Linked DNA regions of Homo sapiens: region 2 is reported to be linked to region 1. Evidence: microRNA targets listed by miRTarBase, many of them from high-throughput screens and not tested one by one. Region 1 holds a microRNA gene; the other region holds the end of a gene's coding sequence.
Evidence for each region. Region 1 holds the annotated microRNA hsa-miR-3120-5p (CCUGUCUGUGCCUGCUGUACA, at 3,959-3,979, opposite strand). A microRNA usually pairs through its seed, bases 2 to 8, with sites in the 3' UTR of a target mRNA and lowers its output. Matches are read on the target gene's strand: a 7mer-m8 pairs with bases 2 to 8, a 7mer-A1 pairs with bases 2 to 7 and ends in A, and an 8mer does both.

Region 1 (7,122 bases):
ATAGCTAACAAGGTACTTTGGTAATGTTTTTCTCAAATTTTCTGGGTTTTTTTTTTTTTTTTACTCTAGAAATGATTACATTTCAAAATTTGCTTTCATTTAATGTATATTTAATTTCAATTTCTTTCTTCATGTTAAACGGTCTTTTTGTTTCAAAGAAATGAATCCCTATGGGTCCCTCACCTATTTTCTCCCTCAGGATGACTTTTAGTCTGGAGATAGAAGGGACATAAGGGTGCCTCTGGCATAAGTACAGGAGTAGAAATATAAGAATTACTTTGTAAAAGGATAACCAAGGAGTTCCTGCACATGCTTGATGTGGCTCTAGCGACTTATTTTCGAGGCAAAGTTTTAACAAATGAAAACGAATAGTACTTATTTTTCAATTATATGGGCTAAATTAAAGATCAAAGGTAAAAGCTCATTTTATAAAGCTCTGCTGAATGAAGGCAGGATTGTAGTTTATGCGCTGGTACACACGCCCACATTTATATACATTATAGCCATATCTATATCCAGGTAAATTAGAAAAATGTTTAATTTTATTTTCATATTACTTTATAAGGAGATATACAAATATTTTAGGGATCATGGAATCTATTCCAGAGGAAACTAACCAACAGTGAGCATCTTCAACTAAAACTACCCCTGGATGTAATAAGTGTAAGTATTAAAATTAAACATTATATGTGGTCATGAAGAGAAAATTGTTTCAGGGTCTGTCCAAACTACACTTCATAGAAATTTCATAATTATTTTTCATTTTAGCATGTGAATGATTGATAAATTGGACTAGGTACTGGGTTAAAAGGACTTTTCCACCATCTAAGAGAAAGGAAGTTCAGAGCCTTAGCTTCAACACCACAATTTCTTAACTGGAAAAGGATCAATCTAAAACGGTGGACTTAAATTTTCAAACTCATTTTTCTTTTAGGCCACAGATCTCAAAATCAAAGAAAGACTGTTTACTATAGGACAAAGTTTCACACTGATCACTTTCCTGTAGTTAGTCAATAGGCTTAATATCCTTCCTGCTTGGCATTCGGGCTTTCGGCCCAGATAATATGTTTATGTTTGTAAAAGACCAAAATATACTATCTACCCCCACCTCTCGCCTACAGACCACCCATGTATTTCACTCTGTGGGAAACAGTTTAGGCATAAAAATCCTAACGAAAGAATTCTCCCCACTTTTTTGGTTGAAGTCTTAAGCTGTTATAAGATATAAAAAGTACAACTTGGTAATGTGAAAAAATTCACTCATCCACAAGCATCCATGCTCGGTAAAGAGACGCCAAAGCTTTCACTTACTCTGTAAGGGATCTGCTCTTTATAAACAATGCACTTTACTCTGCTCTAAGGAGAATAGCCCACCCATCACAATAACGTCAAAATAATAACTAAGAGACCATCACTCAGAAATCCTGGCTTAAAATAACTAGAAGGTCAGGCTTTAACCTGAGACAGGAAATTCCTGAGTTAAGATAGAAACTTTCTTACTTCAAATCCCTTCTTACTTTCATGTTCTGTAAATTAAGTAGAAATAAATATTTACTCATTTTCAAAGGTCTCTTACAAATAATTTTTATCAGTTTTAATAGTTAGAGATAACGAAGTAAATTAGGAAAAATAATTAAATCTTCATTTTGAATTTTTTGACTTAGCGTGACAGCCAGTTTCCTGGAGTTGCTTTGGTTTAATTTCACTACAGAAGACTTAGAAGACAATTCTTTTCTTACATTTTTTTCCTTAAGAAATAAAAGACAAAAAGAAAACAAGGTGTAATAACCACACTAAAAATTACATGGTATGATAATAATACAAATAGCTCTTTTATGTTTTAGCTAGTATTTTAAGTAATAATAAACTAATATTCAACCTATAATTTGGGAGATTAAAAAAAGGTCAATATGGTTTTCAGTCTTTCATCTTTTTAACAAGTTTAGGGGCAGGTTCAACATAACAATGAAGTGTGCATATGTCACATAGTTACTGTAAGTGTGTTTTAAAAATCTATCAGAAACATAAATTGTCCAAAAGCCTTATGAATAGAACAATTGTTTTCAGCAAGATTTTTTTTTTCCCCTGAAAAACTGTTGTGGTTTTTCTGGCTCAAAAAATTTTTATATCTTGCCTTAATAAAACTGTTTTATATTAAAGCATAACATACAAACTCACAAATATTTCTTTTTATTTTTTCAGGTTGCATGCATCATTCCTTTAATTGAGCAGAGTTAACTGGATCAAATTATTTATGGGAGAGAGAGGAAAAGTTATAAAGAATTATAGTAATTTTTAATTTCCACCAATATACTCTTTGTAAGTGAATCACTCTATAATTACTTTCTGTTGCACTGAATGCAGCAACAATAACACAATAGTATTTTAAGGCACTGGTTTTTGGCATACTCTAACCTTGTAATTATTTAAATAACAGCCAAGTTTACTCATGTTTTTGATTCTGTCAAGAAAAAAAAAAAGTTCCTTTACTCGAAAGTGATGGCCGAAACAGAATCGGAAATTTGTTTTCTTGAAATTACATAAATACACAGAAAATGGCACTTATTAGCTTTTGTTAAAACATTACCTTACCTAATCACTGCATAAAAGTCCAGATTTGTAGAAAATTGTAATTTTCTCAGTATCTAAAACTATTTTGCTTTCCATTAAGTTTCTATTTGCTATTTTCTCAGAATTTTACAATTAAAGATAAATCACAAACTGTTTGTTTTTCTTAAAGTTCTTTGAGAAAATGTCTAATTATACAATCCTTGGACAATACTGTGTTTTTTTGGTGCTGTGTTTTTTAAGAAGTCCTACTTACTGGAATTTTGACTATTTGGATATTTTTGTTTTTAAAAGGGGAGGGGAATTTGCTTAATACTTCTAAAGATGTGAATTGATAATTGATATTAAAATAGAATTACTCTCAACTCACCAGAATTAAATTTTATATCTGCATATTTAACACTATTAGCTCATATAAATTATAAGAAAAATTTTCAAAGGATCTGGTTTTAATTTTTTGGATATGAAATGAATTTGCCTTTTCTGCCTTTTCTTAAGTACTATTTTGTAACTATATTGCACTAACTATATCCAAAACACATTCTGAGCATCACTGTGAGTAACAGCCTTCCAGTTTGTACCCTTTTGATTCACAGCATGGCCCTATAGTTAATTAAGAGGTGGATAACTTAAGCTCACAACTGCCTTTAATTTGATTTCACATCCACAGTTATAAACTTTGCATTTAAAAGGAAAATGAGACATTTAAATAGGTTCCTGTTGTTTCACATATAATTGGTAAAAACATATTCCCTTGTAGGATCCTATTATCAGAGCATCAAATACCAAAGTCAGCAACTTGGGTTGCCAAATAAATTAGGCTCATTAATTATTTTGAAAAGGGCTGCTGTTTCCATGTAAATGATAATTTTCTTTTTCATGGACAAGGTTATGGTACTTATCTACTAAAAGAAACATGCATAAACATAGTTTTTATCTTTAACTTCAGTATTAAAATATGCAGTTTTTTGCAAAGAGGAAAAACATCTGGTTCAATTACGCTGAACTCTGACTACATGTGGGCCAGTAATAATATGAATTGGACTTAAGAATAAACCTTGTGTTTAATCTCTTTTTTTCCTTAAAATTTTAATGTGAGTTTTCTGTTACGCAAATTATCCATGTTAGCACATTTGGAACAAATGTATAAATGTACTTTCTGAATAAAGTCAAAAGTCTAACTTGTTTTTAGTTCCATAATGTTTTAATGTTTAATTATATTGTGTATTTTTCTCCCTTTCCCCTTACTCTCCAAAATCACCAAATCTGGAAAACAGGCTGATTGTATCTGTCTATGAGCAAAGGAAACCTGAAGGAACCAAGGGCCTGGCTGGACAGAGTTGTCATGTGTCTGCCTGTCTACACTTGCTGTGCAGAACATCCGCTCACCTGTACAGCAGGCACAGACAGGCAGTCACATGACAACCCAGCCTGAATGACAACCAGCCATTGAAAGAAAGCAGCCCTCACACCATAGCATCTACACCAAGAGCTACAACCAAAATGAGGGGCTCGGGGGCCTGGGGTTTTAATCTGTTGGTTTAATACTTAACTCATGTATTATTTTATTTTGATTCAAGTATTAAAACCCACCAAAAGTAAAGTGAGTGGTGCCTATGAAATATAATAAAACCCATTTCTGAAAATGTTCCTGTGCATTCTATAGTTCTCTTTTCCTAATTGTTGTCAGCAAATCACTACCCTTGACCTTTATTGTACACAGCTTTGCAGCACCCTATATTGATATAAAAACTCAATATAACAAAACAATATAACTTCAGTCTGATGCTTAACAAAGAATAAATTATTCTAAGAATTCTTGTCCATAAACTAAGTATGGTTTTCTATGTCATGATTTTTTTTTTTTTTTTTTTTTTTTGGAAGGGGATAGGGTGGAAAGACAGAGAAAAGAAAAGGGAGAAAAAGAGTATTCCAAAGGATCAAGTGCTTTGAGTTAACTCTGCCAGTCTGGGTTAACTCTGCCAGTCTGGGTCTGGGCAAAACACAGTGAAAAGACTACTATTTCCAACTAGTGTTCAACTATATTAAAATAATAGTTTCTCCTCTTTTGACATATGGAAAGTTGAAATTTTTGATACTTCCACGCGTCATGGTATACATAAATTTATGACTGCGTCATTCTTTAATTAAGAAGGTGCTTATGCTACAGTTCTAGGAGTAGAATTTACAAGGCCAACACATTCACTTGCAACCTATGCTTCCATCACTATAAACTTTCAAGATCTTGAGATGTTCAGGCAATTCATTTATCTTCAGAAGCATAAGGAAAGTGGTTAATGCACTTGAAATGTATATTTTGACACATCTTTTGAGAAAATATCCAAACTTCAGTTTATGCACTGTTAACTGGAGTGAAATGATAAGGGATGGCTTTTGTCTATGAATACTTTAAATACTTAAGGGTAAAAGGTGGGAAGATGGATAAAATTAGAAATGTGTCAACTTTTATTTAGTTCATTAACATGTTTTAGCTTCAGTATTTGAAATTAATTTTCATCTTTCTTAGATTCTGGTCAAGCTTAAAAAATGTAACACAAGGCTACTCAAAACTTTTTTCACATTTAACAATTAAACACTTTATGTATGTATTCTTAACTAAAGCAAACTATTTTTCATTCAGCTATTTTATTTTTAAAATGAAAGTCTCAGTCTTAAAGCTAAGATCCCAGTGAGTTTCAAATTTTCTGACAATGATATTTTAACCAAACCTGACATTATAGTTTCTTTAATTAAAAAACTGAATGATGGGGCAAAACTACAAAGCACAAATATGATTAAAGTTAAATTTCTCTCATTTAAACAATCTTGTCTTATGGCAATATGTCATCTGCTAAAATTCATCTCTGCTTCTGCAAGATACATTGCACGATGCAGATTTTTGCCTTAAATAAAAGTCCCATTACTAGCAAATAAAGTCCTAAACAATACTTACAAAATGTAGAATATAAACAGGAAGACAATATAAAAATTACTCACAGAATATCGACATCGTTCTACCCAATCTTAAATGCCTTGTACCACCTGTTGCAAATGCTGCCTATGAGAGTTCACGTATGGAATTATTCTACTGGACCCTGCAAGGCTCAGGAGAGTGCTTGACAGCTCCCAGAATGAGACAATGACCTAGCCAGAACATTAAGGAGACTACACCCGTCCTTCAGACTCCAAAGGGAAAGCTAGGACGGCAGCAGAGTCATCCTAAGGTGAGGCACTCCAGGATAACATTTTCAATATTTTTCCTTAAAACATAAAGTTAACACCTTTTTTGTTAAACATTTTTTACTCAATTTTCAAAAAAAATGCTTGAAAGAATGTTTTGTATGTATTTTAAAGTCATTAAATGAGGCACATTTAAAAATTTTTCTCTTCTGGGAAAGGGTAATATAAAGGATAATATTGCTCTTCCAGGATAAACTTTTGAGTGGGACAAATAATGCATATAGGGGAGTGGGTTTGAATCTAAACTCATTTTTAATAAATTTGGAATAGGATTGGCCATTATGGTTTATTGAATAATACTCTTTTTTTCAAAATTATAAATCTTTAGATAATACCAGAACATGGAAATATTTGTATGAATAATCCTATATTAAAAAAGAATAACATCAGATAGTTTATGTATGTAAAAAAATATACAACTGTGATCATGCAGAATTTTAAGTAATATAAGTGGATTAGAGTTCAATATTTACTGGGACTTTTGTGAAAATATCTAAGTTTTGGCTAACTAAATAACTTAACGAAGGAGTGTGAACAGTGTTCACAGGGTCGACGCTGACCTTTTCCACCACAGGGAGTGTGCAGATCTGGTAGGAAATATGCACAATCTTAAAAGTATAAGTGAAACTAGAAAGAGAGCTGAATATTTCTATAACTTCTTGATCTCACAACTTTGATCATCCAGGGATATAACTGTCATTTTGTTTCCTATTTCTGAAGTTACATTTGTCATTTGTTATTGTTACAAAATGAAAACAATGCTAAGTAAATATCCCTATAAGGGAATTATATAATCTCCTTATCAAGTTATCCAAACACTTCAACCCACAAAAATGAGGCCTGTAATTTCTTAAGAGTCCAAAGAATGTCCTTATTTCAATGCAGATGTTGGGTTTTCCTCAATAGTATAAGGTTAGCAGATTTCCACTGGAAACGCCTATGTTGCATTATTCTGCTTGCCTAGGAGTAGCTCATTATGATTTAAATCTTTACACACTGGGCTATAGAAATAGAATAAATATTGACTAAGTGCTTTTATTATACATAAATTAACAGTCCTCTTTCTTCAGAGATTTGAATTATCTCTTAAAATTTACATATTTATGTATTTTTAAAACAAATTTCTCATTGGTTTTAAGAAAAATAAGGCTCTTTTCTCCTTGAATCAGGGTCTCCCATTCTCCTAAAATTCACATTTTAGACATAAGTTAAAGAAAAGCCATCATTTTTTTCAAGTCTGATTTTAAAGTATTAATGTAAAATTATCTAGATCAAAAATCCATTTCAAAAAACTTTTGAAATGACAGTTTCTGT
Region 2 (7,122 bases), not on the chromosome of region 1:
AAAGCAAACATACTTCGGGGCATTTCAGTGGGGGCGCAGTGCGAGGGTGTCCTTTGCGCCTCAGCTCCGGAGAAAAACGAAAGGTGGGTGGGAAACTAGGATAGAGGTGAAAAGTAAGAGGGGACTGAATCAGCGAATGACAAAGGGAGCAGGGCTCCGGACAGGGGTAGGAGGAAGAAGAGGAGTGACTGGGGCTTGTGTCAAGCTTCTTCTGAATGGCTAGACAGCCGCCAGGTGGGAGAGGCGGAGGGTGAAGAGGCGGGTTCCGCACGCGGTTAGCCTGGGGCTGATCTAGTCTTCAGCTTTCACCGGCTGGGAGTCCGGAGCTGCAGCAGAGGCCACACCCAGGGCTTGGTGGTCCCGCGCTTTCCGGAGCTCAGCAGGCGCTTGCTGCTTGAACCGGTCAAAGAAGGAACGAATGAATGACCCTTTTGCCAGGATGGAGACCCGGGGGCCTCAGGGAGCTGCGAATCCCATGGACTCCTCCCGCAGCCTGGGGGACCTCGGGCCTTTTCCGCGGGAGGTAGGGCGCGGGGCTCCGCTAGCTCCGGGCGCCCGGAATCCCGCGACGGCAGGGGCGAGCCGAAGCCAGGGCGGCGGCCACGAGGACAGAACGGCAGATCGGGCCCTCGGACCTCGGGCCGGGGAGGAATTGGACCGTGAGTCCTGGGTCAGAGAGAAAGTGCTCTTTCTCCTGCACCCAGAGAGGTGGTTAGGGACTCGAGGGGACCCTGCACGGGAAGAGGTGGCCGGTGCAGAGGACCTTCCTCATGCGGGTGGAGAGGACCACGGCGAGGAGCCCAACTACCCTTCTGTCTTTCAACGACAAAAGCGAATTTCTGGCAGGCGTGTAGCCCCGCCGCGGGACGCAGCAGACCCACCCAAATACGTGCTTGTGCGGGTGGAGGATTATCAGGTAACACAAGAAGTGTTGCAGACCTCCTGGGCCAAGGGTCGCATGACCACGAGGACTGAGGAGCACTTCGTGACCGCGCTCACTTTTCGCAGCAGTAGAGAGGGACAGCCTGGGGAACGCTGGGGCCCTGCTGAATCCCGGGCTCTCCAGGCACGAACAGGGGCATCCCGCGTCCACGCCGCGGGGAGGAGGGTTTCACCGTCTCCAGGGACTTGGCTCGAGGAAATTAAACTCTAATGAGTAGCTCGAGAAATGTTCCGGGATGGTGGATGAGCGATCATCCTTAAAAGAAAATGCTATTCTGGGAGCTCCAACCTGCAATTAACCTACAGAAGGAACCTTTTGAGAGGCTGGTGCAGCGCTTCGGGGAGGCAGATTAAGAACTGTAAGCAGCATAATACCTCCTTTGTGGCTTGAATTCCTTCGCTGTCTGGGGACCTAAGTCATTCAGAAGAGGTGGAGAAAAGATATTTTCAGATTGGCAGAATGTGGGAGTTTTGAAATGAGAAAACCTGTTGTTAATTTGCATTTTGGAATAACTCTCAATTGATCTCTTTTCTGTTCCCCGCCCCCCTCTTGTTTCTCTTTAGGACCTAGAAACAGAAGTGAAGTTTGAAGTCTGCTCTCTGCAAAGAGGGTGGGAGTGGGTGGAGAAGAGGCTTGTTTTAAAAGCCAAAAACAGAAAGTAAAAAGAAATGGGAAAGTAAAACCAAAGCAGCAAGTGACTCTCTTCTGATGTGCACTTTTCATTTTTCTCCCCCACATTTCAGTGTTAGAAAGAAAACGAGAGGAGCTAGGGAAAGAAGGAGTTGGGGACAGAAGACTAAGATTTCAACGTGAAATTCCATTTACAAAGGCTTTACTGCAAACAATAGCTAATTTAGTCCTGTAAACATGCATTTATCATACATTTTAATTTTAATATTAAAAATACTGCATGTAAATGTTCTGAACTAAAGGTAGATAGCAATATGTAGTTTGCCATAAAATGAATGCATGTCTTATTCTTTTCCATAGTTCTTCATTAATGAGACTTGTAGTCAAGAATAGATTGAAGATACCATTCTCCTTGTGTAGTTCAAAAAAATCTCCTCTGGTAATACTGAAACAACTAATTTTTCTTATTTTGTTTGTTCCTCTTTATTATTAAATACTATGTGAATTAACTCTTTAGTAGTTGGCCTGGTTGAAGCTCTGTGAGGAGCAAAGCAGCCCTCTCCAGGTGAACTGCTTGACTTTACCACCTGAAGGAGTATTTACTGCAAGAATTAACAAAGCAGGTAGGACTCTGGCTTTTGATGAGCAAATAGTTGAAAAGTGCCTCCTTCCCCAGTCTTCCCTTTTGCCTTCATTTTTAGTTTAGAGCTTGAAGTGTTCTCAAAAGATCATCTGATCTACCTCTTGCCTCCTGGCAGGCCAGATAGATAAGATGCCCCTGTTTTACTCATGAGCCAACCTAGGCCTAGAGGTCTTGTAGCATGTCTAAGTCACACAGCTAGTAATTGCATATGCTTACTAAGTGGATGAAGAATGTGATAATCTCCCTCCTAAAGGTTTGGGGCAGCCTTTAGAGGATTTATTTGACCCTTACTTAGGGGTCAAAAGATGCCTGAGGATATCCTAGGTTTTCTTTCTTTTTCTATTTTTTTCTTTTTTTTGAGACAGAGTTTCTCTCTTGTTGCCCAGACTGCAGTGCAACGGCACGATCTTGGCTCACCACAACCTCTACCTCCAGGGTTCAAGCGATGCTCCTACCTCAGCCTCCTCAGTAGCTGGGATTACAGGCATGTGCCATCACCCCGGCTAATTCTGTATTTTTAGTAGAGATGGGGTTTCTCCATGTTGGCCAGGCTGGTCTTGAACTCCCAACCTCAGGTGATCCTCCTGCCTCCGCCTCCCAAAGTGCTGGGATTACAGGTATGAGCCACCATGCCTGGCCAATATCTTAGGTTTTCTAACTCATGTTTATGAGAAGTACTAGAATCACCTTAATGTTCCTGAATTCTGCAAGGCCTCTTGGCTGGAGAATCATCACTAGCAGTTCTTAGGCCTGTGAGACCCTCACTTGGGAGAGGAATTCAGCATCTGAGCTCATCTGTGTTCAAAATTGCTTGACAGGTAGAAAAGATTCATCCCTTAAAATGAATCTCTTTTCCTTAACAACCCTCCCTGACTCCAGTGGGAGATTAACTTACTTGGCATGTAAGTTTCAGACCTGAGCTTATTAATTTGGTTGAATCATCACATGTCCCAGGTGACTAATCATTGAATATAGAGAACAAAAAAAGTCTCTTTCACAATAACCAAAAATGGTAAGTAGCATCACTCAGCTGCCTTCTCTGGAGGCAATTTCTGGCGTTCAGCTGCTTGGGTTCAAAACTGGCTCTACCTCTTTATTAACTTGTGTCCTTGGGCAAGTTGCCTTATCTCTGTGTGCCTCTGTATCCTGATTTGTTAAGTGGGGACAATAAATAGTATCAACTTCATAGAGGGTTTTTTTTTTTTAGGGTTAAGTTAAATGAAAATACTTAGAACCCTGCCTGTCATACAATAAATCCTCAAAGTTAGTTACATTTTTTATTATTAGCACGGTTATTGTTTAGTTCACTTTTCATCCTAACTAGGCTTTAGTCTTTTGTTTAGTAACAAAAAGCAGAAATTGTATAACACAAGAAAGCTAATGAAAGTCAAGCCGGTGGTTTTTAATAAGACTCTTCTCTACTCCTGAAAGAAAGGACTTATTTCTAGCTTTTCCTAACCTTTAATGGATCAGTAAGTATATTTCTTAAATTCTTTAGAAATGACCTTCACATCTTCTGTAGGGACTCATGGTAAAGCTCAAAGGACTAAGGTACACTATCCTTAACAGTCACTGAAAAGAGTTTACATACCTCCTAGTTCTGGGCAGATGGGAGCTTTGAATACTTTCTTTGACCTGTCAGGTTAGTTTGTTTTCCCTCTGGGATTTTAAATCTGATGCCCTGTTGTCTAGAAAAGCAGAATAGACACAATTTGTTTTCATTTTGTCTTTCAGCCAAAAACGTATTTAGTCAAGTTAGCTTAACTCCTTTAAACCAAATATGTTTGAGTTAATTTTGTTTTGTTTTTGAGACAGAGTCTTGCTCTGTCGCCCAGGCTGGAGTGCAGTGGCACGATCTCTGCTCACTCCAAGCTCCGCCTCCCATGTTCACACCATTCTCCTGCCTCAGCCTCCTGAGTAGCTGGGACTACATGCGCCCGCCACCATGCCTGGCTAGTTTTTTTGTATTTTTAGTAGAGACGGGGTTTCACCGTGTTAGCCAGGATGATCTCGATCTCCTTGACCTTGTGATGCGCCCGCCTCGGCCTCCCAAAGTGGTGGGATTACAGGCCTGAGCCACCATGCCCGGCCTGTTTGAGTTAATTTTAAGTGATTTTTTTTTTCCTTTTCTCACTGTTTCAAGCAATGAAAATTTATTTTTAAAGTGCTTACTCAACTTCCCTATTAACTGCCTAGAACATGTTTATAGATTTCATTTAATATAGAGTTCCTTTTCATTGGAAACAAAAAGTAGTAAGTCCAAATACTGTTGAATTTGCTTCACAGGTGTTCCTGATCCAAGCAGAACCCTGTTATTTGAAGAGCCTGAGAAATCTTATCCCGTTTACAAATGTCCTGGGAGTGCATCCAAAGTGAAACTTGGGCATCCTCAATACTAAGAAATCTCTGAGAATGACTGGATCTTGGCTCTTTGATCTTACCTCTACTCCTCTGAAAAACATGATTATCTAAAATTGTGTTAGGTGGATGAACCGCATCAAAGACTTCCAGAAGCCACTCCAGTGACCATAAGATAAATGTCAGAATCGCATAACCCCCAGGATCAGGCAAGTGTTATCCTCTCTTAAAACTCTTTGTTTACAACCATGATCTCCTTTTGGGAATCATTACATTTGACTTACTGCTTATTTTTGTTGGATGTTACCAGTGCTTGGTGATAAAACTTGATGTGGCTCTTTGCTTTGAAAAAGAAAAAAACTTTTTATTAAAAGAAACAGTTGTATACACTGCATAAAAATTGGGAAAATATTATGAAGAAAAAGAAGATATAATAAAGGAAACAAAAATTTACAGATGACCCCAAATCTCTTTTAATATTTGGCAAGTTTCAAGCATGAATTTTTTGTTTTGTTTTGTTTTTGTTTTATAGAGACAGCACCTTGCTATGTTGCCCAGGCTAGTCTTTTTTTTTTTTTGAGACGGAGCCTCGCTCTGTTGCCCAGGCTGGAGTGCAGTGGCGCAATCTTCGCTCACTGCAAGCTCTGCCTCCCGGGTTCATGCCATTCTCCTGCCTCAGCCTCCCGAGCAGCCGGGACTACAGGCGCTCGCCATCACGCCCGGCTAATTTTTTGTATTTTTAGGAGAAATGGGGTTTCACCATGTTAGCCAGGATGGTCTCGATCTCCTGATCTCGTGATCTGTCCACCTCAGCCTCCCAAAGTGCTGTGATTACAGGCGTGAGCCACCGCGCACCTGGCGTGCCCAGGCTAGTATTAAAATCCTGGACTCAAGCAATCCTCCTGCCTTGGCCTCCCAACATGCTGGGCTTATAGGCATCAGCCACCATGCCTGGCCAAGTGTGGTTTTATTTTATTGTATTTTCATGTGAATATACCTACATATATACATACATCTTTCTAAGCATAAACTATATAAAGTAGTATTAATGTAACCTCTGTATATTTTCTGAATATGATCTGTATATAAACAAACATATACTGATGCTACTCAAGATGGGCGTTCTGTGAAACGGCAGCGTGGGCATCTCCAAGAAGGTTTTTAGAAAAGTAGAATCTCAGGCCCCATTCCAGATCTGTTGAATCAGAATTCGCATTTTGTCAAGATCATTGGATGATTCACATTAAAGTTTGAGAAACACTGACATATTCTCATATATTTAGTTCTGTATCCTATTTTGTCACTTACCAAAACTGAAAAGTTTTTTTATTCTGTATTCCCAATTAATTGTTAACAATGCCATGAAGATAATAATTCATAGAGTTTTGAACACAGTTAAAGATTACAGGAAGGTGAAAGATAGAGGATATGAATGGGTAAATTGGCGAAGAGATCTCTATGAAGCTTTATAGTGTCTTTTTTAAAGAGCCTTATTATTTGAAAGTTTGTCCTAATGAACCATTGACTCATCATTGAATTTCAAACTATTTCAGAAATATGGCTATTTTGTTGTCTAGGAATATGAAATAATACATTATAAAAAACTCCTGTAAAGGTGAAAAAGCAGGAAGTCATTAACACATTGCACAATTGCAACTCTGCAGGCTGAGTCAGAACTTGTCAGCCACTTGTGATGAATTGAGAGGGGTGGGGAAAAGGTGGAGCCAGAATTTGAATCAACTGATTCAGATAAGTAAACAAAGGGCTGTGACTCTTGAACACCATGACATCTCTATAACTGCAGTCAGTACTTTGCTCTGTAATTAGGGAGGGCAAATCTGTGAATTTACTTCTCTAGATGAAGATAAAGTCCAGATTACTTTGGAGAGAGTAAGGAGTTATGATTGGTTTTCAGGCATTATGCAGCCAATAGTCACAAACAAAACATTAAGACTTGGTTATCTTCAAAGCAAGGAACTAACCAAATTCAAACTTACATTTCTAACCTTAAAACAGAACAAGAGGCCAAGCACGGTGGCTCACGCCTGTAATCCCAGCACTTTGGGAGGCCAAAGCAGGTGGATCACCTGAGGTCAGGAGTTCAAGACTAGCCTGACCAACATGGAGAAACCCCATCTCTATTAAAAATACAGAATTAGCCGAGGTGATGGTGCATGCCCATAATCCCAGCTACTCAGGAGGCTGAGGCAGGAGAATCACTTGAACCCAGGAGGAGGAGGTTGCAGTGAGCTGAGATCGCGCCATTGCACTCCAGCCTGGGCAACAAGAGCAAAACTCCATCTCAAAATAATAATAATAATTAATAAATAAACAGAACAAGAGTATTTTGAGGAGACTGCAGCCCTCCCCAAAATAGAACAAACAGAGGCTGTGTTTGCAGAGCTTGCTATAATAAGAGAGTCAGCCAACATCATTTGTGCTTGGCAGGAAAGCGAAGGCAGGTAGGGCAATAGGAAAGCTTTGTAGTGGCCAAGATGATCTTACCCATTCCTCAGCTTGACTAAATTTCAGATAAGCTTCTTGACTT

Region 2: miRTarBase lists C6orf141 as a target of hsa-miR-3120-5p. The part of its 3' UTR that is shown has no 7-base or 8-base seed match.

The regions. Positions count from the first base shown.
Region 1 is chr1:172,135,677-172,142,798 of GRCh38, reverse strand. MIR3120 (microRNA 3120) reads right to left here and starts at 3,991; the gene lies at 3,911-3,991. All of the region lies in intron 14 of DNM3 (dynamin 3), which reads right to left. It overlaps DNM3OS (DNM3 opposite strand/antisense RNA), which reads left to right. Exons shown (of 4, transcript NR_103486.1): 3 at 586-663; 4 at 2,203-5,920. It overlaps MIR214 (microRNA 214), which reads left to right and starts at 3,892; the gene lies at 3,892-4,001.
Region 2 is chr6:49,550,375-49,557,496 of GRCh38, forward strand. C6orf141 (chromosome 6 open reading frame 141) reads left to right here and starts at 294. Exons shown (of 1, transcript NM_001145652.2): 1 at 294-1,721. The coding sequence starts at 419. The coding sequence ends at 1,153. RefSeq lists a silencer at 279-338 and enhancers at 1,009-1,078, 1,095-1,614.